Homo sapiens: one gene and its partners. The protein of the gene in region 2 purifies or fractionates together with the protein of the main gene of each other region. This does not show direct contact. Each region holds a gene or a part of one and is shown on either strand. Other genes may lie near its edges. The genes, in order: ATP8A1, SLC43A3, ABCB1, MFSD8, LMBR1, RABL3 and IFITM1.

Region 1 (4,087 bases), on a different chromosome or scaffold from region 2:
TCTGAACTGATCAACATCACTTCTGAAATAGGTTATTGAGTTTTATGTGCCATGTGTTAAGAGAGAGATTAACCAACTGGGCCTTTGTTCAGAAGAGAAAGTGATCAGAATAGAGATTAATCTGGAAATCACATGAACTGAAGGACAACAGAAGGCGGGGAATGTTTAATTAGAAAGGAAAAGATAGGATAGAATTGGCATGATAGCTGAGTTCAGATATTTTGCAAGACTATCATTCAGAAACAAGATTAAGCATTTTCTTAATAGATCCATTGGGAAGAACCAGAATCAAAGGAAGACAGTTATAATCTCATTTTCACACAAGAAAGTTGCTTTGTAAAAGAAGGCTGGAAAGTCAGTGTTCTATCTGTCAGATGTTATAAAATCTCTGTATATTAGAAAGGTGGTTGAAAGCATAAGCCTGCTGGGTTCATCCAATACTAAAATTATATAATTCTTTGAAAGATATTATTTTTGAAAATCAAAACAACAAAGTGATTATCTAGCTTACTTATGTGATTCTCACAATGAGTTACCCTATTATTGCTATAAGAAACTTCAATAAGTCTTACTTATATTTGTACATATCCTATTACGTAATTTTTCAGCCATATATCTCCTGCATGAAGTGAGCTACACCTGCAGCTCATTTTAGATTTCTAAATCACACTGATTTCTTACCAATGAATTAAGAGATTGACAGTTTAGGTAGATAATTCGCTACAAGAAGATAATGAGCAGTTACAAAAGTATGTCATATTTTTCGAAACCCTAATATTGTTCATATTGAAAGACTTTACAATGATTGAAAAAGAAAGAAACATCAAAAATAACACAAAGTTTCTCAAAATAAAAGAAAAATTAAATTTTCTGGCAGATTAGGCCCACAGATTTAATTTAGATAAATTCATTAATTTTAACTTTAATAAAAATAAAACTAAGACATTTAAAAACATTTAGAAAGTAGATGTCCAACATTTTTCTAATATTTAACAATATTCAAGAGAAAAATTATGAAGAAAAATTCAAGTGAAGCTAAAATTGTTTACAGTGTAGAAAATAACATGATATAACATGATAATCTGGTTGATATCAGTAAGAATTACAGTATTATTTGTATAGTGATTGATTATTTTCAAAGCTCTTTGCTATGTCAAGAGATTCCTTAGTCCATAAAACCACTGTAAGATGTAGGTAAGGCATATTATCCCTATGATTGTGTTCAAGAAAATAAGTTTCAAAATAAGTGACTTGAGAAAGTTGATACACCTAGTAAATTATAATACTAGAACCATAATTCAGACACTTAACTCCAAACTCATGGTTCTCCATCTCCCACGACCACCATAGGTTTCCTGAACTAGAGACCCATTTTCCCTACAATGTCTGGCCTGTAAACTTGTGTGATTCTGAGATGAGGAACTTTGCAACAAATTAGGTTCAAAAATCTGATACTGTGGTCAAGAAACGGTAGATATAATTAAAACCTTTTTTCTCCTGAGATATCAAAATATCCTAAGGACAAAATTATTTTGTAGGGTGATAACAATCATAATTCATATTTACCCAATTTATGAAGTATGCCTGGGTAAATTTCACAACTTCTAATGTAACCAATAAGCTGATAGGAATGAGATTGTTGAAAAGGATGATGAAGGTCAAGAAATTCAGTCCAAAATTACTAGCGCCACCATCTGTTGGGAGAGGCAGGAAGAACGTCATTTACAGTTTTATATTTTATTTGCATTGACCCCAAATTAGCATAATACAAGTTTTCCATACTACGCAGCTTATTTGATAATTTGGGAGGAACACTTTGCTGATAATCTATCCTAATTCTCAAGTACATCCTTCAAGATAGAATTGCATTGTGTTCAATATGTTGTTAATCCAGGTAAGAGCTGTATAAAAGTACTAAGACAGTGAAAGGACTGTCAAATATTGCAAACCCTCTTCCAAACACAAAGTTTAGAGACATCAGGGATAGCACTGAGGGTTTATAAATATAAAATCTCAATTGGGTAGAATCACTTTTATATAAATTCTTAAGAGTATTTCCAATTTAAAGCATACTTTAAAAGCAAACAAGACAGCAGCAGCAAAAACAATCCAAACTATATGAGTAATATTCAGTCCTAGGTAAATTATTCTCCTAGGTACATTATACTCTTCTTCCTCAAAATGAAAATAAAACTGCTATACCAGATACAATTATAAAGTATACAAAGAAACAGACTGATGGTAGTAACAGTTCTGATACTGAAATAATAAATCAGTAACTATAAAAACAACTTGGAATTGCTGCAAAGATAAATCAATATAATAAAAAAAATTTAAAAATACCAGTTTTTGCTATGTGATTGTACTAGAATTTGCTTTCACACTTTTGGAAGTTAAGTCTTTATTGGCTAAGTACTCATGAAATGAAAATGTAAACTCATTTGACAGAAATATCCAGGGGTGGTACATTAATATCACAATAATAAAAGGATAAATGCTCTAAAGGAAAACTATTTACTAGCACCTTCTCTAAGATAACATTTAATATAGGACTTACCACATTACTGAGTTCAAATGAAAATACATTGGGTTTAAACATTTTTAAACCATATAAACCACTTTTTGGTACTTTTATTTAAATAAAATATAAACAAAGTATATTTTATTTAAGATAAAATATATTTAAATATTTATATTATTTAAATATATTTAAAATATTTTATATATTTATAAATACATACAATATATATTTAAATATATATGTTTTGTTATATCCACACATGGTCAATCTACTTTCTTTACCATATAGTTAACCACCTATGTTAAAAATATTTTTAAGGAATAGTTTTCGTTGATATATATAATAAATGACTATACTTAGTGAACATTTTATACCACTATAGAGTGCTCATTATGTTTTTAAGGATTCTGAAATTTTAGGATTCCCAAATTTTACTTACACTTGCTAGAAATCTCACTGAAAAATAAAGATCAAATGTCCAGCTATCTTGGCAACAAGGTCTTTTTAGAAACAATACGAAATAAAGTAAATCAAGATCAATTGTGAAACAAATACATGTCTTAATCTAAAAAAGTGCAGTAAGCACTTTATTGCTTACAGTTTAGATTGAGATACCAGTCTTTTCCAGAATGCCTTCGATTCCAAATGGCTGAGCCCACAGAACAGACAAGAGACATGGCAATTAAGATACAAAATAAAATCAAAATTTGTACATTTGTAATCCGTTCCACATTTGAGAGCTTAAGTGGTGGACTTGTTGAATTCTGTAAAAAGAAACAAGATGAGTAATAAAAAATGTACACCAATGATTTAGCAATCTATACTTAGTATTCTGTTGAGGATGACAAAGTCACAACTCAGTATCTAGATGTGGGTGGATACGTGAAAATTATGTGAAACCCATGACAAATGTAATAAGGTGCCAATGGTTAACCACCTTTTTTTCAAGGCCACTACACCACCCAGGCCTTTTTCTAGGAAGTAAACTATAAGAAAGAAGAGAACGAAATTACATTCCCTTTGCAAAAATAGCTTTTGCATTGTGGCAGGTAAGATGAATAATGCATTACTTGGCTATGTAAGCAAACAGGGTAGTCTAGAAACATTTAGTGTTTCCGTTCAGGAAGACAGGCAGACAAGGCAGCCCATGCTCCCGCAAACAGGCACCTGGAAATTTGAACATAGGAAGGCAACATTTAAAGGATCTCCGGCTTTCAAATTTCTGGTGGCATTTAGCAATTGTTTTACTGAACGCAGCAACAATTTAAGTAGTCCTGGCTATAAAGAATAACAGAGGCAAGTTGCCTCAGTTGTATTTGATGATTCAAATGGTTATGTAGACCTGTGCTAACCAAAAAATCCATAGAACAGAAAATTAAATGTCAGAATGAATATGAAATGAAGATTTATAGAATTTATAAAATGGCTAGTGGTGGAATCACTAACAGCAATCTCGCTTGCCTATTGATAATACCTTCATGCCTGTACAAGGTACAAAGGTATTAGCTCTGAGAGCAGATTTTCATTTAGTTTCTTAAAACTGTTTTCCACACCCATCTGACTATT
Region 2 (4,087 bases):
CCAGTGTGTCCGTCTCCACAGAGCCCGCCCCAAGGCCACTTACGCAAGGGTGAGGAAGGCCGCGTTGCTCCCATAGAGGAAGGAGCGGCTGATCACTTGCAGGATGAAGGTGAGGTACTGGAGAGGGAGGATGGGGACTGAGGCACAGAGGGCGAAGCCCAGGCACAGCAGGGATGTCAGGGCCAGCGAAGGCACCGTCGAGCAGAGGGCCACCGCCAAAGTGGAGGAACCTGGGCGAACAGAGAGGAAAAAGAAGCTCTCTGTAGGCCAACCCAACAGAAGTCAGCGAAGGGCCAAGGAAGATTGGAAAAAGGGGAGGAGCCACTATCCATCCACTGTCCCAACAGAAACCTGGGAGTCATCCTCGAATCCTTTCCCCACATGCCCCACCTCAAACTCATCAATAATGCTGATCATTCACCTCCTACATATCATTCAAATGTGCCCACTTCTCTCCAACCCCACTGACTCATCCTAGCTTTAAACTACCATTAACTCAGTCATGGATTACTGCAATACCCTCCTGACAGGCTACACATCTGCCCCTCCCCACCCTGAACATGTAGCCAGATCCTCTTTGTAACACTACTGGTAATAGCAAAAGACTGGAAACAATCCAAATAGTCATCAGTACAGGAATGCTGTGGCAACTATGCTGCAGCCATGTAATGGAGACCCAGGCAGTGGTTAAAAGGCATGAGAGGTCCCTGCTACAGAGCACCCTCAGGATAGAGTTACATCAAAAAAAAAAAAAACTCTGCAGAATAGTGTATACAGTATACTACCTTTTATCTAAAAGAGAGGGAAATGTATTGATATGGTTTGGCTGTGTCCCCACCCAAATCTCACGTTGAATTATATCTCCCAGAATTCCCACGTATTGTGGGTGGGACCCAGTGGGGGAGGGTAACTGAATCATGGGGGCCAGTCTTTCCCACGCTATTCTTGTGATAGTGAATAAATCTCACGAGATCTGATGGGTTTATCAGGGGTTTCCACTTTTGATTCTTCCTCATTTTTCTCTTGCCACCACCGTGTAAGAAGTGCCTTTCACCTCCTGCCATGATTCTGAGGCCTTGCCAGCCATGTGGAACTGTAAGTCCAATTAAACCTCTTTTTCTTCCCAGTCTCAGATAGGTCTTTATCAGCAGCATGAAAACAGACTAATACATGTATATACACCTACACAATGTTTATATTTAAAAAAATAAAAATGGTTACCTAAAGAAGAGGAAAAGGGGTACAAGAAACAGAGAGGGAAAGTAAACTTCTTTGAATATATCTTGTTTCACAGTTTTACCTTTGGGAAAATGTAAATGTCTGATATGTAAATGTTTTACAAATAAAATAAAATAATAATAGGAAGAAAACAAGTAAAACAATCTTTAAAAATCAGAAACAAAATAAAATGAAATCAATGAACATAACTCTATACCAAATTAGTGACCCTTAAAATCAGTAATTTGGCCCAGTGTGGTGGCTCACACCCACAATCCCAACACTTTGGGAGGCCAGGGCAAGAGGATTGCTTGAGCTCAGGAGTTAGACATCAGCCTGGGCAACAAAGACCCTTCCTCTACAAAAAAAAAAAAAAAAAAAAAAAAAAAAAAAAAATTATTTTAAATTAGCCAGACATGGTAGTGCATGCCTGTAGTCCAAGCTACTTGGGAGGCTGAAGGGAGAGGATCACTTGAGCCCAGGAGGTTGAGGCTGCAGTGAGCCGTGATCGTACCACTGTACTCCAGCTTGGGCAACAGAGTGAGACCTCATCCCTAAAAATAAAGAAGAAAATATGGCAATTTGACTGTACATCTCTAATGGGATATATCCTAAGGATGAGAAAGGAATAAGGAAGGACAGAAAAAAGGAAACAAAGAAGTAGCAACAGTATTTAGCAATTGTATTGTTATCAAGTAACATCAATATTGGTAAAACCAGTAATTATATTTAAAATACTATATATGTGTATGTACATTTACATATGCATATGTTAGGAACCAAGTTTATCAGAGGAAGAGAAAGGGCTACAAATGTAAAATCAAGGAAATAAAAATTTGAATAAAAATATCAGTATTAAGTATTTATGATATTTTTCTTATAAAAAAATTATATATATGTTAACTCTATCCAAAACCCAAAAGCAGTGACAACCCAGGAGCAATAAAAAACCTCAGCATCCAGACTGTAGTCTCTACCATTTCCAATTAAAGAAACCCAGGGCTAGTTGGGAAAAATGACAATTTCATGTCTAGGGCAAGAAACACACCTAGTGAAATGGACCTGAACATTTAATTGTGTTAGAAAGTAAGGAAACTCTCTAGAAATAATGTGATTTCATCTAAAAGACACAGATTCTGGGCTGGTAAAGTTTTCAATGGCCAAAGGTGAGACAATTTGAGCATCAAGAAGAATCATGACAGAACAGATTAAAACATGTCAAATATATTTTAAAATGAAATATTATAAAAGAAACAATTAGTAGCCATCCCTGAAGGTCACTAGGGCACCAACTCATATTTCAAACTGGTAAATAAATGTGTAAGCCAAGCATTTATTTCTGGGTAACAAAATAGTAAGGAATGTTTTTCTTTCTAGAAGAATTCTAGTGATTAAAAGTAGAAGATAGAAATAGAAAATCATCCTTTTGGCCAGGGGCAGTGGCTGTAATCCCAGAACTTTGGGAGGCCAAGGCAGGTGGATCACTGGAGATCAGGAGTTTGAGACCAGCCTGGCCAACATGGTGAAACCCCATCTCTACTAAAAATACAAAAATTAGCCAGGTAGTGGGTGCCTGTAATGCCAGCTACTCGGGATGCTGAGGCAGGAGAATCGCTTGAACCTGGGAGGCGGAGGTCGCAGTAGGCTGAGATTACGCCACTGCACTCCAGCCTAGGCAACACAGTGAGACTCTGTCTCAAAAAAAAAAAAAGAAAGAAAAGAAAATCATCCTTTTGCGATCCTAATGAAATAATGGGCCTAGGCATTGATCATTAATGGCTCCTAAAATCACTAAGTATATGGTTGATGGGAAACTTTATAGTGGATGGATCAGACTCGCAATGTCTAAACCAGTTGATCAATCTTAACATCGTAACAAGACAACAGACACCAGGGGCTGCTGACAGGAGAACAGAGGAAACCCATAGCTCTACCACTGAGTTATTCACGGCAAAAAAAAAAAAAAAAAAATTAAACTGCGTTTCCTCCAAGCTTCTAATCCTGTTGTTTACAGGAAATACCCAAGGAAAGGAATACTTTTAAATGACACATTAAAACAACGCCAAATCCAAAATATGGGGAAATGACCCAGTTTCTTCAACAAATAAACAAGAAAAGGTAGGGGGGAGGACTGTTCTAGATTTTAAAAGCTATAGAAGACACAGCAACCAAATACACTGCATGGACCAGGCATGGATCCTAATTGGAACAAACCAACTGTAAAAGGATGTATTTGAAATGATTGGAGGAATTTGAACAGTGACTGCACAGTAGATGATATGAAGAAATTATTGTTATTTTTTAGGTGTGATCATGATTTTATGGTGATGTTTAAGTAAAAGAGGCCTTATTTGTTAGAGATACATGTACGGGTATAGAGAAATATTTACGGATGAAATGATACGATGTCTGAGATTTGCTTTGAAAACTCTAGCAGGTGTGGGAGAAGCAGGTGCATGGGTGGGGGAAGGGATAGATGAAATAAGTATGCAAAATGTTAGTCTACTTTTGTCCCTCCTGACCCAGCAGGTTAAAATACCTCAGCATACCTCTACTCCTCCAACCAGGTCCAAGGATCAGGCCAAAACTCCCTGATGTGGTAAACAGCCTGACCCCTTCTTACCTCTCTCTCTCCAGCCACTTCCCTAAGATTCCCCAGTGCTCTGTGCCCTAGCCAGCCCGACTCATCTGCCCAGATTCCTCAATGTTTCACTCTCTCATTCACCATTTTGACCCCACTGTGCTCCTGGGCCACTCTCCAAGGCCCCGCCTCTTCATCTCCTCCCTCCTTACTCATCCTTCAGGTCTTGGCTTAGGTGCCATTCCCTCCAGGAAGCCTTCCCTGACACCAATCCCATCCTCACCTAGA
Region 3 (4,087 bases), on a different chromosome or scaffold from region 2:
ATTAGTGGATGGTGACATCTTTAAATCTTTCCTACATGAGTTCTCATCAGAGAAGTTTGAGAACCACTACTCAAACTAAACTCCCATTTCAGCCAAAGTGTCCTATTTGCTGCATTGGGAACAAATCACTGATCGCAGCTTGTATTTTCTCTTACATTGAATGTCATCCCTACTGTTCACCCATATGCAAATCCTTATCTCTTAAGAACTAGCTCTAGGCCTATCTCCTTTAACTCACAAAACTATATGCCCCATCTCCTCAGTTAAAGTATTTGAGGGCAGATATCATGCCCTACAATTCATTATAGCACAATCTTTAACACACCACTTAATAACTGTCTGTTGAGGGCCATAATCAGTGTCTGAGAGCTAACATTTCCTCCTCTAATTGCTTTGGCTGTCAGCGACGTCTTTATTTAGAGTCCTGTTTTTAAGTTCACCACAAAATTGAAGGACACAATCAGAGTTCACAGAAAATATAAAGCAAGAGAGTAAAAGTAGGGAACAAGCTTGTAATGATTTAAGAGTAAACTGAATAAAGGCATAACTGTCTTTGAATACAATAACAAACATTTATGAGTAAGAGTGACCGCTGTGAGGAAGTAAAAAGAGTCCTAGACTAAAGATTGAAAACTCTCTTTTCATTTGAGTCATTAAATGCTACCAGCGTCCATACACAGCGGGTGGGCATCCATCTGACTTGTACTAGCAGGCATCCATTCTGATTGGTCAGTGTCCATGCTGTTCCCATTGTTAAGAATTTTAAATATCACTTCTCAGTACAACTAATTACATGCCTACATAATGAAAATGTCTTGCTCTTAATTCTATTCCTTCCTAGTTTGTCTTCTTTCCTATCCCCCATCATAGTCGTTTAAACTCACTACTCCCTGCCAGACACTTCCCTCATCCCCAGCAACTAAGACAAAAGGGCATACTTCCATGTTCTTTTTACATTTCCCAAATTTGTTGATTCTACTTTTTTTTCCTCAGATGATGTTTCAATGCCCTCTCTCCATCAATGATTTTGTCTCATCCCCAGTCATAAAAATGCTCAAGAGTTCAACCCCTAAACATTTTCCCTGGACTCTGCCTCCCCACTCAAGTGCTGTCCTTATTTGCCTTTCTTTTACTTTCCATCTTCTTGATAATCTATGCTCACTTACATCTCCATTTCTTCCCCTAATCATACTTCAGCCACCCTTAACTGTTTCCTACCATCACTACTTCACTAAGAATATTTTAAAATGTCAGAAATAGCCCATTCATTGCTAGATTCTATCATGTCTTCTCAGTCTCCTCCTTACCCAATCTCTCTATACCATCTGTCATTGCTGACCACCATCTTTGAAACAGTCTCCATCCTTGGCTTTCATCTCACTCCTAGCACCTGTCCTGTATCTTTCTGGCTACTTCCATTTTTGTTGGTTCTTTTCAAGTCAGCTGAAACCTAAGTACAGCAAGGGAGACAGGTGGTACAAAGGGTGCTTGCAAAGGAGGGTAGAGGGGTAGTGTTGAGGGGAGCCTGGAGAAGTTGGCTGGGACAGATGACACCACTTGGAGACCATATTTAGGCTCTCAGACTTTATCCAAGTGGGACTGTTGTTTAAAGGTTTGAAAAAACATGGCTTATAGTTGAGAATTAAATACATTCAGACATTTGGATGATGAAAACCTGAACTGAGCTAAATGTGAAAGTGTGCTCACCACTTTCCCTGCCAAGGGGTCGTAGAACCGCTCCAGGAGCTGGACCACTGTGCTCTTCCCACAGCCACTGCTGCCCACCAGAGCCAGCGTCTGGCCCTTCTTCACCTCCAGGCTCAGTCCCTGAAGCACTGGGATGTCCGGTCGGGTGGGATAGTTGAATACAACTTCACCAAATGTGACATTTCCTTCCAATGTGTTCTGCAATGAGAAGAATAACAGTAAATTTGAATGCTGCAATACTGAAAATAAAGTGTATAGCTAACTCTCTCGATTACCAGGTGTCAGAAGATAATTAATTTGTGTTACAATTGGCTTCACTTCAAACTGCTAGAATTTATTTTATTTTAATTTTATTATTTATTTATTTTTTATTTTTTTGAGACAGAGTCTCACTCTGTCACCCAGGCTGGAGTGCAGTGGCATGATCTCAGCTCACTGCAACCTCCACCCCCCAGGTTCAAGCAATTCTCGTACCTCAGCCTCCCAAGTAGCTGGGATTACAGGCGTGTGCCACCACACCCAGCTAATCTTTTTTTTTTTATTTTTATTTGAGATGGAGTTTCACCATATTGGCCAAGCTGGTCTCGAACTCCTGACCTCACGTGATCCACCCACCTTGGCCTCCCAAAGTGCTGGGATTACAGGCATGAGCCACTGTGCTTGACCTCAGACTGCTAGAATTTAATAAATGAGATCTAAAAGAGTAAAAGCTTTCATAGCATGTATTGTTAAGACAATATGAATATGCAATACAGCTACAATAACTCAAATCTGTTCCTCAGGAATACAGTAACTTACATACAATAAAATCTGATAACCAGCCTGGGCAACATAACGAGACCCTGTCTCTACAAATAATTAAAAAATTAGCTGGGCATGATGGCACACGCTTGTAGTCCCAGTTACTTGGGAGGCTGAGGCAGGAGGATCGCTTGAGCCCAGAAGATCAAGGCTGCAGTGAGCTATGATCATACTGCTGCACTCCAGCCTGGATGACAGAGTAAGACTCTGTCTCTAAAAAAAAATTGTTTTTAAAAAATCTGATTAATAGGTTTTGCTTATAAAGTGAGCAGTATTCCTATTTCCCTATAACCTTTGCTACGTAAAAGTACTGAATGTTGATGTATATTATTAGCAGTAATTGAAAGGAATCTATGATCTAGGAAGTTTTATTTTATCATCAGCATATTTGAAAGTACAAATTTTATTAAGTTTCCACTTAAAATACTTTCATTCAGGAGTCAGGAGTAGATCAAACAGTTGAAACATCAAACTCACCGGCATTAGGCCTTCCGTGCTGTAGCTGTCAATCAAAGGGGTTTTTTCAATGATCATGATGATGTGGGCTGCTGATATTTTGGCTTTGGCATAGTCAGGAGCAAATGAACTGACTTGCCCCACGGCCATGGCACCAAAGACAACAGCTGAAAATACTCTGGAAAGCACAAACACAAAACATGTGCACAGCATTACCATCACAATGCTAGAAAGCTGACACTCCTTTTTTTTTTTTTTTTTTTTTTTGAGGTGGGGTCTTCCTGTGTTGCCCAGGCTGGAGTGCAGTAGTGCAATCAGAGCTCACTAAAGATATGATCTCCAGGGCTTAAGCGATCTTCCCACCTCAGCCTCTGTAGTAGCTGGGACTACAACTGTGCATGACCACACCAGCTAATTGTTTTATTTTTTGTAGAGATGGGGGTCTCCCTATATTGCCCAGGCTGGTCTCGAACTACCGGGCTGAAGTGAACCTCCTGCTTCAGCCTCCAAAAGTGCCGGGATTATAGGTGTGAGCCACCATGCCTGGCCAAAAGTTGACACTTCTATAACCAGAGAGCTTTGCCTCTAATAGTTATAAAACAGATGTTAAAAATAAAACAAACACATTTCCTTATAAGTTCATGTCTATGTGATAGATTGATTGCAAAATGGCCCATTTTTTTCCCTCTGTATACCTCTCTCTGTATCCTCATCTTCTTGCACTGTGACCTTTGCAGCACCCTTTGAATCTGGGCTGGCCTTGTGACTTGCTTTGGCCAACAGGATATGGTGGAAATCACTTTTGCCAGTTCCAAGCCTATGACTCAGGGGGCCTTATATGCTTTGTGAGCATGCATGCATGTGTTCTCTCTCTCTTTCTCTCTCTCTCTCTCAGAATTCTGCCACTGTCTCAAACCCAGGATAGCCTGCTGGAGGATGAGGCACACATGGAGGAGAGCTGTCTGAATCCCAACCAACCAGCTACAGACACAATCCACTACAGACACATGAGTAAGTCCAGCCGAGATCCACTATGCCTAATCCAGATCAGTAGAACTTCACAGCTAACCCATAGGTTTGTGGGCAAAAATATGTATGTCTCTGAGGTTTAGTGGCTGGTTGT
Region 4 (4,087 bases), on a different chromosome or scaffold from region 2:
AAGAAACATGTTCAACATCACTAATCATTAAGAAGATGCAAATCAAAACAAGATACCATCTCATCCACTAGGATGACTACTATCCAAAAGAAAGTTAACGTTGGCAAGGATGTGAAAAAATTGGAACCCTGACTGTTGTTGAGAATGTAAATAAAATGGTACGGCTGCTATGGAAAACAGTATGGCAATTTTCCAAAAAATTAAAAAATTAAAAAGAAAATCATAATATGATCCAGCAATTTCACTTCTGGATATATACCCAAAAGGACTAAAAGCAGGATCTTGAAGAGATATTTGCACACCCATATTGACAGCAGCACTATTCACAACAGCCAAGAGGTGGAAGCAACCCAAATGTCCATCGACAGATAAATGGCTAAACAAAATGTGGTAGGCCAGGCTAGGCTGTAATCCTAGCACTTTGGGAGGCTGAGGCCGGTGGATCACGAGGTCAGGAGTTCAAGACCAGCCTGGCCAAGATGGTGAAACCCCATCTCTACTAAAAATACAAAAATTAGCCGGGCATGGTGGTGGGTGACTGTAATCCCAGCTACCTGGGAGGCTGAGGCAGAGAATTGCTTGAACCCCGCAGGCGGAGGTTTCAGTGAGCCAAGATCACACCACTGCACTCCAGCTTGGACGACAGAGCGAGACTTTGTCTCAAAAAAAAAAAAAAAAAAAATGTGGTATATACTGAAGGCAATCAGAGTATGCTACTCCAAAAATCTGCTGTTTTGCCATATTAATTATCTCAAACTGAAGGCAACCGAGAAATAGCAGATGCAGGAAGGGTTCTCTGCTCTCCCCCTTTCTGCCTGAATGCAGAGAATAGATTGAATTTTGTTTTGTTGTTAATTCTTTGAGGCACAATTGAGATTCTGTTACCTACAATCTGTCTTGGGACATTAAGACACAGGTATAATTAAGACTGTATATTTAAACTTAAGAAATTTTGCACTGGCCAGGCGGGGTGGCTCACGCCTGTAATCCCAGCACTTTGGGAGGCTGAGGCGGGCAGATCATGAGGTCACGAGATCGAGACCATCCTGGCTAACGCCGTGAAACCCCATCTCTACTAAAGATACAAAAAAATTAGCTGGGCGTGATAGCGTGCGCCTGTAGTCCCAGCTACTCGGGAGGCTAAGGCACAAGAATTGCTCGAACCCAGGAGGCAGAGGTTGCAGTAAGCCGAGATCACACCACTGCACTCCAGCCTGGGCGACTCCACCTCAAAAAATGAATAAATAATAATAAATAATAAAATTTTTTTAAAAAGAAATTTTGCACATCTTCAAGAAGTAGCAGAACAAATAATTGACTGATGGCTGTAAAGATGAAATACTTTTGGCCAGGTGCGGTGGCTCAGGCCTGTAATTCCAGCACTTTGGGAGGCTGAGTCTGGCAGATCACGAGGTCAGGAGATCAAGACATCCCGGCTAACACAGTGAAACCCCGTCTCTACTAAAAATATAAAACAATTAGCGTGGTGGCGGGTGTCTGTAGTCCCAGCTACTCGGGAGGCTGAGGCAGGAGAATCACGCGAACCTGGGAGGCGGAGCTTGCAGTGAGCCGAGATCGCGCCACTGCACTCCAGCCTGGGCGACAGTGCGAAACTCCGTCTTGAAAAAAAAAAAAAAAGAAAAAAGATGAAATATTTTTAACTGGGGGCGGTGACTCACGCCTGTAATCGCAGCACTTTGGGAGGCCGAGGTGGGCAGATCACCTGAGGTTGGGAGTTCGAGACCAGCCTGACCAACATGGAGACATCCCGTCTCTACTAAAAATACAAAATTAGCCAGGGGTGGTGGCACATGCCTGTAATCCCAGATACTTGGCAGGCTGGGGCAGGCGAATCGCTTGAATCTGGGAGGTGGAGGTTGCAGTGAGCTGAGATCGTGCCATTGCACTCCAGCCTGGGCAACAAGAGTGAAACTCCGTCTCAAAAAAAAAAAAAAAAAAAGATGAAATACTTTTGTGAGTACATGAAAGTGTTAGGGACTCTTAGTAGTTGTCTAGTTTCGTTTGTATGTACATTCCTTAATGTTATTTGTTTCTTTTCATTAAAAAATATTAACATCAAATAAATTTGTATACTTTTTTAACTGTTAGTCTTTCTTTTGTCAGCTTAATTCACAAGCCTTAAGCACATAGGAGAATAGAGGAAAAATTTCTCCTACCCTAGAATACATATAATGAACTATACAGCCTTTAAATAAAAGGAAATTATCACAAGTGCAACATGAACCAACTTGAGGACATTGAGTGAAATAATCTCATCACAAGAAAAAAAATACTATATAATTCCATTTATATGAGCTATCTAGAATAGTCAAATTCCAAGAAACAAAGTTTGCTAGGGCTTGGGGGATGGGAAAATAGGGAGTTGTTTAATGGGTATAGAGTTTCTCTTTTGCAAGATGAAAATGTTCTAGGGATTGGTTGCACAACAATGTGGATATACTTAAGGCTATTGAACTTAGATATGGTAACACGGTAAATTTATGTCACGTATTTTTTAGCACAATAAAGATAATTTCAGAGGCAATGAAAGTAAATGAAGTAAATGAAGTTAAAATATGACATCTGATCTGAATTGTTAAAATTATGTATTTCTAATACTTACCTACACTGCTGAGAAACATAGTAAGATATAAAATCCTAATAGATCTCCATCGGCTCTTATAATGCTCTTCAGTCTCTAAAATGTCCCATTCTCTAGGTGTAAAGAAGAAAAAAGTAGTATAAATTTATCTCATTACATGTGGATCTTAAGTGTCAACAGTTTTATTCTCTAGTTATGAAAATGATGTGATAGAGGTAGAATTTACCAATATTGATTCTGCTACACTAATTTATCTATGAATAAGCATTATTTTTTTGAATTTCCATGGATTGTATATATGCATTATTGTATACAGAAATTTGGGAAACAGTATAGTTTTAAAAGAGGAAACTTTTTGCAAGGCAATTATTTTGCTACCATTGACATGCACAGATTTATTAATCAAGAGTGTTGCAATTTGTAAAAATGAATAAATTACGTCAAGATAAATCAAATAAACTAGCTACAACTAGATCCCCCGTAGCTACTAAGTACTAAAAAATAATAACTGTCATCATTATAACATGCTCTACTTGATGACAGCAAATTAAATTGCTGCAGGAAGCTCTTTTGGCTTCCTACTTCAGAAAACAGGAATGATACCAGGAAGGTTTAACGTAACCTAAGACATTTTCAGCCCTGGGACCTCCTAAATGGGTTACCAGATAAATTTTATCAGCAGACCAAAGAGAGACCATGACTCCCCAGACTTAAGTGATCTTTTGGATAAGCGTCTGATCTGGACCAAAGGCATGTATACTAAGTAGATATCTTACCTCCATTAGGTGACACATGAGTCTATATACTCATTACATTTTCACACACACAATAGAAAGAGTTAACAAGTTCACCTTAACGTGAGCATTATCTTTTCAAATAATCAAGACATGCAGAACAGACAAAATGCCTTCTTATGTTCCAAGATTAATTTCTTAAAAATAAGCCTTAGAACTGTCAAATTAGTCTTCAAAAAAGAAACTTTTTTTTTTCAAACGTGATATGGTTGGGAGTGGTAAAGAGGAAAGGAAGAAGAGAAACAATGTTTTTAGATGTATTATATGCCAAACATATTAGTTCCTAATATATTTAAAGTGTTTAACACTATATATGTCATTCCATATAAACAAACCTCTTCTGAGTCAAAGGAGATAAGAAAAAAATAAAAATAATGTAGCTTACCTGAGAAAAATACCAGAACCCTAGATGCCCATACTTTGAAATCAATATACTAGAATTTGAATAAAAAACCAGATATATCTAAGTTAGGGAATCAAGAAGTAAATTATTTGATTCTAAAAAAATAATAAAATTGTTTGAGTGACTGATTTAGAGCTCAGACAAAATCTTTCTTCTTTTAATGACAAATGACAATTATTAAATATTGAAAGGATAAAATTAGAAAATAATAATTTAATGGCCACTTTCTATGCTATAATGGAAGGATCATCAATGGATGCTAAAACAACTGACTGGAAGATTGTTAAG
Region 5 (4,087 bases), on a different chromosome or scaffold from region 2:
TGAAGGCACTGAAGTGCACAGCCTCTGTAAACTGGCCAGAACCAGTTCATGCTCAGTGCTCTTATCAGGAGAAAGTTACTGAAATCAGTCTCTTGTCCAATCAAAGCTATAGTTATGGCTTGTGGAACAGGAGAGTGGGGATCACTTAGGGTCTGGCAGTGAGTGAGCTGCAGTTATCTTAATATTGCTTATCTGGAGGCCAGTGCTTGTTTAGCCGCTAGAAAAAAAGAAACACCTTGAGGCAGTTAGAACCAGTTTATTCTTTAAGGGGATGCTTTACTTAACCCTTGCCTGGCATGGCCCTACATTTTGTTCACAGTTGGGTATTTTATTGCCACAAAGAGTCTGTTCTCTCAGTCTTCAGATCTCTATTTTAACATTAATGCTGGTCAGCTGTGTTTAAACCTCAAAAGGGAGGGGGTATACTGAGGCGTGTCAGATGTCCCATCCCATTCTGGTTGGGAATTCAGTTTTTAAGGTTTCCTGGGGTCCCCTTAGCCAAGAGAGGGTATACTCAGTTAGCTGGCAGCCTTAGGATTTCATAGCTAGCTCTCAAAAGAAAGGAAATCAATCATTACTACCTGATACTAATAGCCAAAGTCAAATATGATCACTAAAGCAACTGACAAGAGAACTATGAGATATTCATAATACAAAAGACAAAATTATTACATGAGTATTTAAAAGTTAAACACTAGGCTGGGCGCGGTGGCTCACGCCTGTAATCCCAGCACTTTGGGAGGCCGAGGCGGCAGATCACGAGGTCAAGAGATTGAGACCATTCTGGCCAACATGGTGAAACCCCGTCTCTACTAAAAGTACAGAAATTAGCTGGGTGTGGTGACGCTCGCCTGTAGTCCCAGCTACTCGGGAGGCTGAGGCAGGAGAATTGCCTGAACCCGGGAGGCGGAGGTTGCAGTGAGCCTTGAGATTGTGCCACTGCACTCCAACCTGGCGACAGAGTGAGACTCCATCTCAAAAAAAAAAAAAAAAAAAAAAGTTAAACACTATATTGTACAAAAAAATTAATTCAAAATGGATCAGACCTAAACCTAAGAGCTAAAACTATACAACTCTTAGAGGAAAACCTTCATGATGCCAGTTGGTGATGATGCCAGTTGGTGATGAATTCTTGGATATGACACAAAAAAACACAGGCAACAAATGAAAAAATAGATCAATTGGACTACAAAATTAAAAACTTTTGTGCATCAAAGGACACTAGCAATAGAGTAAAAAGGCAACCCTACAGAATGGGCGAGAAGTGTTTGCAAATCACATGTCTGATAAGGGGTTAATATTCAGAATATATAAAGAACTCCTAAAACTAAACAACAAAAATCAAGCAACTCAATTCAAAAACAGGCAAAGAACAGATATTTCTCCAAAGAAGATGTCCATATAGTCAATAAGCACATGAAACAATGCTGAACTTCACTTATAATTAGGGAAATGCAAATCAAATCCAGCATCAGATACCATTTCACATCCATTTTAAAAAAAAGAAGAAAAACAGAAAACAATGTGTGTTGGTGAAGATGCGGAAGAACCAGAAACTCTGGCTCCTTGCTAGTGGGAATATAAAATGGTACAGCCTCTGTGGAAAATGGTATGGCAGTTCCTCAAAAAAATTAAACATAGAGGCCGGGCGTGGTGGCTCACGCCTGTAATCCCAGCACTTTGGGAGGCTGAGGCGGGCGAATCACGAGGTCAGGAGATCAAGACCTTCCTGGCTAACATGGTGAAACCCCGTCTCTACTAAAAATACAAAAAGTTAGCTGGGCGTGGTGGCGGGTGCCTGTAGTCCCAGCTACTCGGGAGGCTGAGGCAGGAGAATGGCATGAACCGGGGGGGCGGAGCTTGCAGTGAGCCGAGATTGAGTCACTGCACTCCAGCCTGGGAAACACAGCGAGACTCTGTCTCAAAAAAAAAAAAAAAAAAAATTAAACATAGAATTATCATATGATCCAGCAATTCTACTTCTGAATTGAAAGCAGGGACTCTAATAGATATTTGCATACCCATGATCACAGCAGCATTATTCACAATAGCCAAAAACAGAAACAACTCAGGTCAATTGATGAATGAATGGGTAAGCAAAATACAGTATACACAAAAAGAAAATATTATTCAGCCTGAACAAATTCTGGGCCAGGCACGTTGGCTCCCGCCTGTAATCCCAGCACTTTGGGAGGCCAGGGTGGGTGCATCACTTGAGGCCAGGAGTTCAAGAACAGCCTGGGCAACATAGCAAAAACCCCATCTCTACAAAAAATTAAAAAATGAGGCCAGGCACAGTGGCTCACACCTGTAATCCCAGCACTTTGGGAGGCTGAGGCAGGTGGATCACCTGGGGTCAGGAGTTCAAGACCAGCCTGGCCAACATGGTGAAACCCATCTCTACTAAAAATACAAAAATTAGCCAAGTGCGGTGGCGCATGCCTGTAATCCCAGCTACTCGGGAGGCTGAGGCAGGAGAATTGCTTGAACCAGGGAGGGAGAGGTTGCAATGAGCCGAGATCACGCCACTGCACTCTAGCCTGGGCAACAGAGAAAGACTCTGTCTCAAAAAAAAAAAAGAAAGAAAAAGAAATTTTGACACATGCTACAACACAGGTGAACTTTGAAGGCATTATGCTAAGTGAAATAAGCCAGATAGAAAAGGACAAATATTGTATGGTTCAACTGGGAATAGTCAGATTCATATAGGCAGAACCAGCAGCTGGAGAGAGTGAAGAATGGAGAGTTACTGTTTCATGGGTATCAAGTTTCAGTTGATGAAAAAGATCTGGAAATGGATAGTGGTGGTGGTTGCACAACAATGTGAATGTATTTAACGCCACTGAACTGTATATTTAGATATGGTAAATTGCATGTTATATATATATATCTTATTATGATAAAAAAGTTAAGCAATTATAGCATTATGTAGCAAAATCAGAAAGAATTGAATAATTTTAAAAATTGGCAACAGGTCTTAGAGAAAAAGTATTTACATTCACTCTAAATATAAATCATTTGAGAAAGAAATGCCAAAGACTGGGAACCCTGAGCCTGGTCACTGTCTGCGCTGGTTCTGTAGAAGATGGAGTAGACTCAACCAGCCAGGGGTACTGGGTTGAGGGAAACAGGTGAGGAGAGTCAGAACTAAAGAACTCCATAATCGGTACCAAAACCGTTTTCAGGGGAGTAGACGAAGCTCTGGACTGTTTTACAATGTGTCCCTTTCTCAACCCAAATTCTAGAATATCTAATTAATTAAAAGTAAAGCCAAAGAGCAGGAGGATCACTTGAGCCCAGGAGACAGGTCTGGGCAACACGGTGAGACCTCACCTCTACAAAAAATTAAAAGATTAGCTGGGTCTGTTAGTGCACACCTGTATGATTCAAGCCTGTAGTCCCAGCTACTTGGGAAGCTGAGGTGGGAGGATCGCCTGAGCCTTGGAAGTCAAGGCTGCAGTGAGCCATGATTGCGCCACTGCACGACAGCCTGGTCAACAGAGGGAGAACCTGTCTCAAATTTTAAAAAATAATAAAACTAAAGACAAATAGACCAATAAAACCACATAAAGTCCAAAATTAAACCCTATGAATATACAGTTACCTATCTGTGACAAAAGTCCTAAATAGTGCTGAAGCAATTGGACATTCCTGTGGGAGAAAAAAATATGACTCCTACCTTGCACCAGACACAAAAAAATAAATTCGAAATAGATTGCAAATTTAAATGAGAAGAGTAATTCAATAAAGCATTTAGAGAAAAGAAGAAGAGAACATCAGTCTTAGAGTAAGGAGAGATTTCTTAATCGGGACATTAAAAGTACTCAAAAAAATTTTAATAAATTGAACTATATTAAAATTAATAATTTCTGTTCATCAGAAGATATCATTAAAAGTGAAAGGCATCCACAGAGTGGGAAAGAAATATGTGCAGTATATATTTCTGACAAAGAAATCATATCCACCTGTATAACAATATAATACAAGTTATTCTGTAAAGACCTTGCAAATCAATATTAAAAAGATAAACTTAATTTTTAAATGGGGAAAAAAATTTGACCCTTCACAAGATTTCCAAATGGCTAAT
Region 6 (4,087 bases), on a different chromosome or scaffold from region 2:
CATTATGTACCCAGTAGTCATTCAGGAGTAGGTTGTTCAGTTTCCATGCAGTTGAGCGGTTTTGAGTGAGTTTCTCAATCCTGAGTTCTAGTTTGACAGCACTGTGGTCTGAGAGACAGTTTGTTACAACTACTGTTCTTTTACATTTACTGAGGATTGCTTTATTCCAACTGTGTGGTCAGTTTTGCAATAAGTGTGATGTGGTGCTGAGAAGAATGTATATTCTGTTGATTTGGGATGGAGAGTTCTGTAGAGGTCTATTAGGTCCGCTTGGTGCAGAGGTGAGTTCAATTCCTGGATATGCTTGTTAACTTTCTGTCTTGTTGATCTGTCTAATGTTGACAGTGGGGTGTTAAAGTCTCCCATTTTTATTGCGTGGGAGTCTAAGTGTCTTTGTAGGTCTCCAAGGACTTGCTTTATGAATCTGGGTGCTCCTGTATTGGGTGCATATATGTTTAGGATAGTTAGCTGTTCTTGTTGAATTGATCCCTTTACCATTATGTAATGGCCTTCTTTGTCTCTTTTGATCTTTGTTGTTTAAAGTCTGTTTTATCAGAAACTAGGATTGCAAACCCTGCCTTTTTTTGTTTTCCATTTGCTTGGTAGATCTTCCTCCATCCCTTTATTTTGAGCCTATGTGTGTCTCTGTACATGAGCTGGGTCTCCTGAATACAGCACACTGATGGGTCTTGACAATTTGCCAGTCTGTCTTTTAATTGGAGCATTTAGCCCACTTACATTTAAGGTTAATATTGTTATGTGTGAATTTGATCCTGTCATCATGATGTTAGCTGGTTATTTTGCTCATTAGTTGATGCAGTTTCTTCCTAGCCTCAATGGTCTTTACAATTTGGCATGTTTTTGCAGTGGCTGGTACCAGTTGTTCCTTTCCATGTTTAGTGCTTCCTTCAGGAGCTCTTTTAGGGCAGGCCTGGTGGTGACAAAATCTCTCAGCATTTGCTTGTCTGTCAAGTATTTTATTTCTCCTTCATTTATGAAGCTTAGTTTGGCTGGATATGAAATTCTGGGTTGAAAATTCTTTTCTTTAAGAATGTTGAATATTGGTCCTCACTCTCTTCTGGTTTGTAGAGTTTCTGCTGAGAGATACGCTGATGGGCTTCCCTTTGTGGGTAACCTGACTTTTCTCTCTGGCTGCCCTTAACATTTTTTCCTTCATTTCAACTTTGGTGAATCTGACAATTACATGTCTTGGAGTTGCTCCTCTTGAGGAGTATCTTTGTGGCGTTCTCTGTATTTCCTGAATTTGAATGTTGGCCTGCCTTGCTACGTTGGGGAACTTCTCCTGGATAATATCCTGCAGAGTGTTTTCCAACTTGGTTCCATTCTCCCTGTCACTTTCAGGTACACCAATCAGACATAGATTTGGTATTTGCACATAGTCCCATATTTCTTGGAGCCTTTGTTCGTTCTTTTTACTCTTTTTTCTCTAAACTTCTCTTCTCACTTAATTTCATACATTTGATCTTCCATCACTGATACCCTTTCTTCCAGTTGATCAAATCGGCTACTGAAGCTTGTGCATCATCACGTAGTTCTTGTGCCATGGTTTTCAGCTCCAACAGGTCATTTAAGGACTTCTCTACATTGGTTATTCTAGTTAGCCATTCAGCTAATCTTTTTTCAAGGTTTTTAGCTTCTTTGCAATGGGTTTGAACTTCGTCCTTTAGCTCGGAGAAGTTTGATCATCTGAAGACTTCTTCTCTCAACTTGTGAAAGTCATTCTCCATCCAGCTTTGTTCCTTTGCTGGCGAGGAGCTGCGTTTCTTTGCAGGGGGAGAGGTGCTCTGATTTTTAGACTTTTCAGCTTTTCTGCTCTGTTTTTTCCCCATCTTTGTGGTTTTATCTACCTTTGGTCTTTGATGATGGAGTCGGACAGATGGGGTTTTGTTGTGGATGTCCTTTCTGTTTGTCAGTTTTCCTTCTAACAGTCAGGACCCTCAGCTGCAGGTCTGTTGGATTTTGATGGAGGTCCGCTCCAGACCCTGTTTGCCTGGGCATCAGCAGCAGAGGTGGCAGAACAGCGAATATTGCTGAACAGCAAATGTTGCTGCCTGATCATTCATTCCTCTGGAAGCTTTTTCTCAGCGGGGTACTGGGCCATGTGAGGTGTCAGTCTGCCCCTACTGGAGGGTGCCTCCCAGTTAGGCTACTCGGGGGTCAGGGACCCACTTGAGGGGGCAATCTGTCTGTTCTCAAACTCTGTGCTGGGAGAACCACTACTCACTTCAAAGCTGTCCGACAGGGACATTTAAGTCTGCAGAGGTTTCAGGCTATGCCCTGCCCTCCGAGGTGGAGTCTACAGAGGCACACAGGCCTCCTTGAGCTGCGGTGGGCTCCACCCAGTTCGAGCTTCCTGGCCTCTTTGTTTACTTACTCAAGCTTCATCAATGGCGGGCGCCCCTCCCCCAGCCTCACTGCCACCTTGCAGATCTCAGACTGCTGTGCTAGCAATGAGCAAGGCTCCGTGGGTGTGGCACCCTCTGAGCCAGGTCAGAGATATAATCTCCTGGTGTGCTGTTTGCTAAGACCATTGGAAAAGCACAGTATTAGGGTGGGAGGGACCCAATTTTCCAGGTGCTGTCTGTCACCGCTTCCCTTGGCTAGGAAAGGGAATTCCCTGACTCCTTGCGCTTCTTTGGCTCACACACAGTGGGCTGCACCCACTGTCCTGCCCCCACGGTCTGACAAGCCCCAGTGAAATGAACTTGGTACCTCGTTGGAAATGCAGAAATCACCTGTCTTCTGCGTCGCTCACGCTGGGAGCTGTAGACTGGAGCTGTTCCTAATTGGTCATCTTGGAACCACTCCCTTAATTTTAAGTTCCTTGAGGGTTCTTACGCAGCTTTTTTATCTCTAGTATTTAGATCAGAACCTTAATTAGTATTTATTAAAAGTTTCCATATTATTCCAAAATCTTCATAAACATTTAAAGTATCTCCATAGTACTTCAGAAAGTAGGCATAAAAATTTACTTAATCATTCTTCCATTATTATTAGATATTTAGGGTGTTTTGAAATTTTTGATATGCTAGTGAAAGGTTATTTCTGTTTAAACCTTTGTTTAAAATTAAAATTATGTCCTTAGTATACCTTCCCAGGAGTAAACTCAGTACTTAAAAGGAAACATTTAAAGTTCTTGATATGCATTGAGAAATAACTTTCATGGGGTTATACTGCCACCAGCCATACACTTGAGCCTGCAGGTCTTGTTGCACCTCAACAGTATCATGTAGTTGGCTTTTCATCCTTGTTAACCTGATAAAGGAATAAAAGTGACATCTTGGCCAGGTGCGTTGGCTCACACCTGTAATCCCAGCACTTTGGGAGGCTGAGGCAGGCAGATCACGAGGTCAGGAGTTCGAGACCAGCCTGGCCAAAATGGTGAAACCCTGTCTCTACTAAAAATACAAAAATTAGCTGGGCGTGGTGGTGGGTGCCTGTAATCCCAGCTACTTGGGAGGCTGAGGCAAGAGAATCACTTGAACCCAGGAGGCAGAGGCTGCAGTGAGCCGAGATTGCGCCACTGCACTCCAGCCTGGGTGACAGAGCAACAATCCGTCTCGGTGGTGGCGGGCAGTGGGGGAGTGACAGCTTGCTTTAGTCTGCATTTCTTTACTTTCTGATAAAGATCAAAGATTATCATTATGATTATTCTGGCAAATCAGTTGTTTTTCCTCTCATAAATTCTCTGTTGATCTACTCTGTACCTTTATCTACCAGGTTTTAGTGTCATTAATTTATATGAGCTCTTTATCTATTAAATATATTAATCATTTTACGTATGTGTAATTGAATCAAACATTTTCTCAGGCTTCCCTTTTATTACTTTTTTTATATAGAAACATTTAAGATTTTTAAATACTCAAAATTATATTTGTCATTGAATTTACTGCATTGTGTCTAATATCTGTAACTTTTAGGATGTATTGTTGATTCTGTATTTGTAAATAGGTTTGTTTATGTTCAAGGAATGTATCTATCCACTTAATTATCAGCTTGATGCAACACTTGAGGCCTAGTTTAGCTTAATTGTGTTAGGGTAAACATTTCCAGGCAGTAGAATTGT
Region 7 (3,789 bases), about 57 Mb from region 2:
AGAGGCCCAAGGCCGCTGCGGGCCTGGCACGGGCTGCTGTCCACGGGCACCCGAGGAGTCCGCGGCGAGGAGCGGCCAGGCCGACCAGCTCTGCTCCCGCGGGTGCCGTCTGGGAAACTTCTCGGCTCCCGCCTCTCACCTCCCCGCGGCCCGCGCACCCCCGACGCCCGTGGGGACCGGGATCTGGCCGCGCTGCTGGGCCGTGGCGAGCTGGCGTTCGGCGCCCGGGACCCACGACGCGCCCTGCGTCTCCGACTTCGTGATGCCTCGGACTTCCCGTCACATTTCAAGACTGCGGGATCCCGGGGCCCTCGCTGGCTGCACCAGAGGGGTCTCCACCTGGCGGGACCCTCTTCCCGAGCTCCCGCGGGGCTCCCGGTCGGAAGCTGCCCTCCCAGGCCCTCGCGAGCGCCCCACCCTCGGGCCATTGGCTGCCCCCACCCCAGGGGAGCAGGGAAGATGCCGGCTGGACTGGAGGAGGCAGCTGCTAGGATCCAGCACACCTGGATCACCCAGGAGAGGCTGCAGCCCTGAGGTTCCTTCAGCTGCTACCCTAGGAACAAAGCCCCTGCCCCTCCCACAGGGCCTAAGGTGCACACATCTGCAAGACCAGCTGCCCAGCCAGCTCAGAGGCAGGTTGTCCTGGCCCAAAGGTATTCTGGACAGTGTGTCCTTACCTTGGTGTCAGAGAAATGCCCACCCCACGTTCCTGGTCCAGATGCTGCCCACAGCAGGAGGCGGAAACCAGCAGATTCTGAGCATATCCCTGCTCCCCTGAGAGCTTCACAGAGGAGGGATACGGCTGTGCAGGGGCTGAGCACTGGGCTGTCTCAGGACTAGGCCGGGACCCCTCAGCAGGGCCCCCACTCCAGATGAAGTCACAGCATCATCACAAGCACGTGCACTTTATTGAATGACACTGTAGACAGGTGTGTGGGTATAAACTGCTGTATCTAGGGGCAGGACCAAGGGGGCAGGGGCAACAGCCCCAGCGTGCAGGGCCAGCATTGCACAGTGGAGTGCAAAGGTTGCAGGCTATGGGCGGCTACTAGTAACCCCGTTTTTCCTGTATTATCTGTAACATAATATGGTAGACTGTCACAGAGCCGAATACCAGTAACAGGATGAATCCAATGGTCATGAGGATGCCCAGAATCAGGGCCCAGATGTTCAGGCACTTGGCGGTGGAGGCATAGGCCTGGGCCCCGGTCACGTCGCCAACCATCTTCCTGTCCCTAGACTGGGGGAGAGGAGATGGTGAGGGGACCAGGATCCCCCAGCTGAGAGCCGCGTGCTATGGCTCCGTCTCCTCCCCGCCCTGAGATCAGGGACCACCTCCTCCCCTTCCTCACCCGGGCTCAGACTCTCCAGGAGCCTCGGGGCTCATCCTCCTTCTGCCTTGGCCCCAGCACAGGCTGTTCTCCCCACCATGGGGTGAAGTCACCTGTGAGTTCCCTTCTCACTTTCTGGGAGAGCCTGGGTGCCAGTCTGGAAGGTGAGGGTGTAATTTCTTACTGGGCTATAGGGAGAATTGCTCTGGGCTAATGGATAGCCAGGGACAGACTCTGAGCCAGCCAGCCAGCCTCCTGGAGCCTCCTCCTAGACCTGCACTGGGCAGATTCCCCAAAGCCACACACACACACAGATCACACAGACAAAGCTACTGACGTGAGCACACACGGGGCAGAGGTGCACACAAACTCACAGTCACAGGGACACACAAGTCCCCACCCCAGGCAGCATGTGGGCAGGTGGAGCCCCAGGCTCACCGGCACCCCCTGGATTTCCGCCAGGGCCATACGCACCTTCACGGAGTAGGCGAATGCTATGAAGCCCAGACAGCACCAGTTCAAGAAGAGGGTGTTGAACAGGGACCAGACGACATGGTCGGGCACGGAGGTCTCGCTGTGGATGTTGATCACGGTGGACCTTGGAAGGATGGTGCTGGGGGGTGGCCCCAGCACAGCCACCTCATGTTCCTCCTTGTGCATCTTCTGGCTTTGGGGAAGGAAGTGTTGAGTGAAGGTTTGAGAAGTGTGGTTTTCTGCGTGGAGCGAAGGGCCGCTGTGGTGTCCGGATGCTGGGACGGTGCTCAGTGAGACCTCCTTTCCCCTGTCGTTTCAGTTTCTCAGAAGTGTGTATTTCTCTTAAGTTTCTATTTCCTGCTGTTTGTAAATTGGTGAATTAGCCAGGGACCAATGAGGTGTGGTTTAACTTCTTGAGGATCAAATTACTTTATGGCAGGGTGGGAGGAAAGGCTGAAGGCTAAGGAGAGAGGCTTCCTCATCAGAAACTCAAGTCAGGACTAGTGACTTCCTAAGTGTTGGGTTTAGGGGGCCCTGGGGATTTTACCCAGGCTTGGGTTCTGTCCACCCCAGGCCAGCAAGTACAGGACCTCACTGTCCCGGTTCAGGGCCCCTGCCAGGCCCCCACACTCCAGGCGCCAGGACAATCCCCCAAAAGCCCTCACCTCACTTGTCGCAGGCCTCTCTCCTGAAATCCTTGCTCTTTCCTCAGGCTGCAGTCCTGCTCTGTGCGGGTTTGGGGACTAAACCTCCCAGTGTCTCCTGGTGCAGGTCAGAGGCCTGGTGGCCAAAGTTTCCTGCCCCAAAGCAGCCCTCCAGGCCCAGGAACGGGGACTCTGGGGAGAACTGACTCCCCAGAGGGTAGTGTGTTGAGACACGGGGAGGATTCCAGGGCCTGTAGGGGCAGCTTCAGAGCACAGGGCACACATGTGCCACCCCCTACCTTCCGGGTCCCAGCAATTCCCATGGCTTTGGTTGGGGTGAGTGCTGGATGACCTAGGCGTTGGGTCCTAGCCATGCAGGAGAGACCTGGAGGGTTGGCAAAGCCAAGTCTGGGGCTGTCAGGCCTGGGTGCCCCTTCACAGGGACGGGGAATTGTAGACTGAGTAGCAGAAGGGAGCCCTCAGGCACAAGGATCATGAATTACAAATTGCAAATTACATAAAGGAAAAATCAGAGCCCAAAGGTGGGCCTGCAATTATTAATGTAATGTTCTTAAGTTCTCTTTCTGCTTTCGTTTCTGCCTGCTTTAAGTCTGCTGTTACTTTTCTACAGAGATAAAATCCACTGTTTGCATCCAACCATTTCTTTTTATTGTTTGTGTAAACCAATGAATTTGTATTACTATCTCATGGCTGGAGTTCTGAAGTAAAACCATACTTTTGCTTGAGTGTGTATGTGTGTATATGTGCACATACACATATTTCGTTATGTGTTTTTGGCCACAAGTTACCAAATTTAGCTTAAACTTAAAGAGTACTCATAAATTAAATAATAAGCCTAAATGCTTTTCACGTTCATGTGACTTAAGTAGAATCTTTAATAAGCTAGCTTTAAAATTACTGGTAACGTTAGAAATTGTAGCAGGACGAGCCACAGACAAAACCCTCAGACATCGAGTTGAGGAAAGAAAGGGCTTTATTTGGCCTTTATTCGGCCAGGAGCATCAGCAGACTTAACATCTCAAACACCGAGCTCCAAAACCATCAGCCCCTCCCTACCCATTGCAGCTAAAAAAAAAAAAAAAGAACTAGCCCTTGCCCTTGCTTGGAGTCCCTGCTGGGCCTCCCCAAATCGCACACCAACCCCCCCACCCTCCACCCACCCCTCAACAGGCCGCCTCCAGCCCCAGCCACATCCCAGGCCACTTAGACCAAACTATGTCTGGGTCCCGGCAAGCCAGGGGTGGATGTGGATGGAGCGTGCTCTGAGACATCGAGGACTGCCTACACAAACTCCTCACAAGGCTCTGTGACCTCCTATC

What was found.
Region 1: the proteins of SLC43A3 (region 2) and ATP8A1 purify together in Homo sapiens (affinity purification with mass spectrometry; one large-scale study listed by BioGRID and IntAct). This does not show direct contact.
Region 3: the proteins of SLC43A3 (region 2) and ABCB1 purify together in Homo sapiens (affinity purification with mass spectrometry; one large-scale study listed by BioGRID and IntAct). This does not show direct contact.
Region 4: the proteins of SLC43A3 (region 2) and MFSD8 purify together in Homo sapiens (affinity purification with mass spectrometry; one large-scale study listed by BioGRID and IntAct). This does not show direct contact.
Region 5: the proteins of SLC43A3 (region 2) and LMBR1 purify together in Homo sapiens (affinity purification with mass spectrometry; one large-scale study listed by BioGRID and IntAct). This does not show direct contact.
Region 6: the proteins of SLC43A3 (region 2) and RABL3 purify together in Homo sapiens (affinity purification with mass spectrometry; one large-scale study listed by BioGRID and IntAct). This does not show direct contact.
Region 7: the proteins of SLC43A3 (region 2) and IFITM1 purify together in Homo sapiens (affinity purification with mass spectrometry; one large-scale study listed by BioGRID and IntAct). This does not show direct contact.

Annotation. Positions count from the first base shown.
Region 1 is NC_000004.12:42,576,694-42,580,780, forward strand, and holds part of ATP8A1 (phospholipid-transporting ATPase IA), read right to left. Parts: intron 3,286-4,087; coding exon 3,120-3,285; intron 1,695-3,119; coding exon 1,567-1,694; intron 1-1,566. UniProt on the Homo sapiens protein: Catalytic component of a P4-ATPase flippase complex which catalyzes the hydrolysis of ATP coupled to the transport of aminophospholipids from the outer to the inner leaflet of various membranes and ensures the maintenance of asymmetric distribution of phospholipids.
Region 2 is NC_000011.10:57,409,892-57,413,978, forward strand, and holds part of SLC43A3 (equilibrative nucleobase transporter 1), read right to left. Parts: intron 231-4,087; coding exon 44-230; intron 1-43. UniProt on the Homo sapiens protein: Sodium-independent purine-selective nucleobase transporter which mediates the equilibrative transport of extracellular purine nucleobases such as adenine, guanine and hypoxanthine.
Region 3 is NC_000007.14:87,513,524-87,517,610, forward strand, and holds part of ABCB1 (ATP-dependent translocase ABCB1), read right to left. Parts: intron 3,143-4,087; coding exon 2,986-3,142; intron 1,906-2,985; coding exon 1,708-1,905; intron 1-1,707. UniProt on the Homo sapiens protein: Translocates drugs and phospholipids across the membrane. Catalyzes the flop of phospholipids from the cytoplasmic to the exoplasmic leaflet of the apical membrane.
Region 4 is NC_000004.12:127,954,878-127,958,964, forward strand, and holds part of MFSD8 (major facilitator superfamily domain-containing protein 8), read right to left. Parts: intron 2,716-4,087; coding exon 2,624-2,715; intron 1-2,623. UniProt on the Homo sapiens protein: Outward-rectifying chloride channel involved in endolysosomal chloride homeostasis, membrane fusion and function. Conducts chloride currents up to hundreds of picoamperes.
Region 5 is NC_000007.14:156,886,487-156,890,573, forward strand, and holds part of LMBR1 (limb region 1 protein homolog), read right to left. Parts: intron 1-4,087. UniProt on the Homo sapiens protein: Putative membrane receptor.
Region 6 is NC_000003.12:120,735,794-120,739,880, forward strand, and holds part of RABL3 (rab-like protein 3), read right to left. Parts: intron 2,875-4,087; exon of another isoform or gene 2,734-2,874; intron 1-2,733. UniProt on the Homo sapiens protein: Required for KRAS signaling regulation and modulation of cell proliferation. Regulator of KRAS prenylation, and probably prenylation of other small GTPases. Required for lymphocyte development and function. Not required for myeloid cell development.
Region 7 is NC_000011.10:312,373-316,161, reverse strand, and holds IFITM1 (interferon-induced transmembrane protein 1), read right to left. Parts: upstream 2,123-3,789; 5' UTR 1,992-2,122; coding exon 1,806-1,991; intron 1,241-1,805; coding exon 1,049-1,240; 3' UTR 890-1,048; downstream 1-889.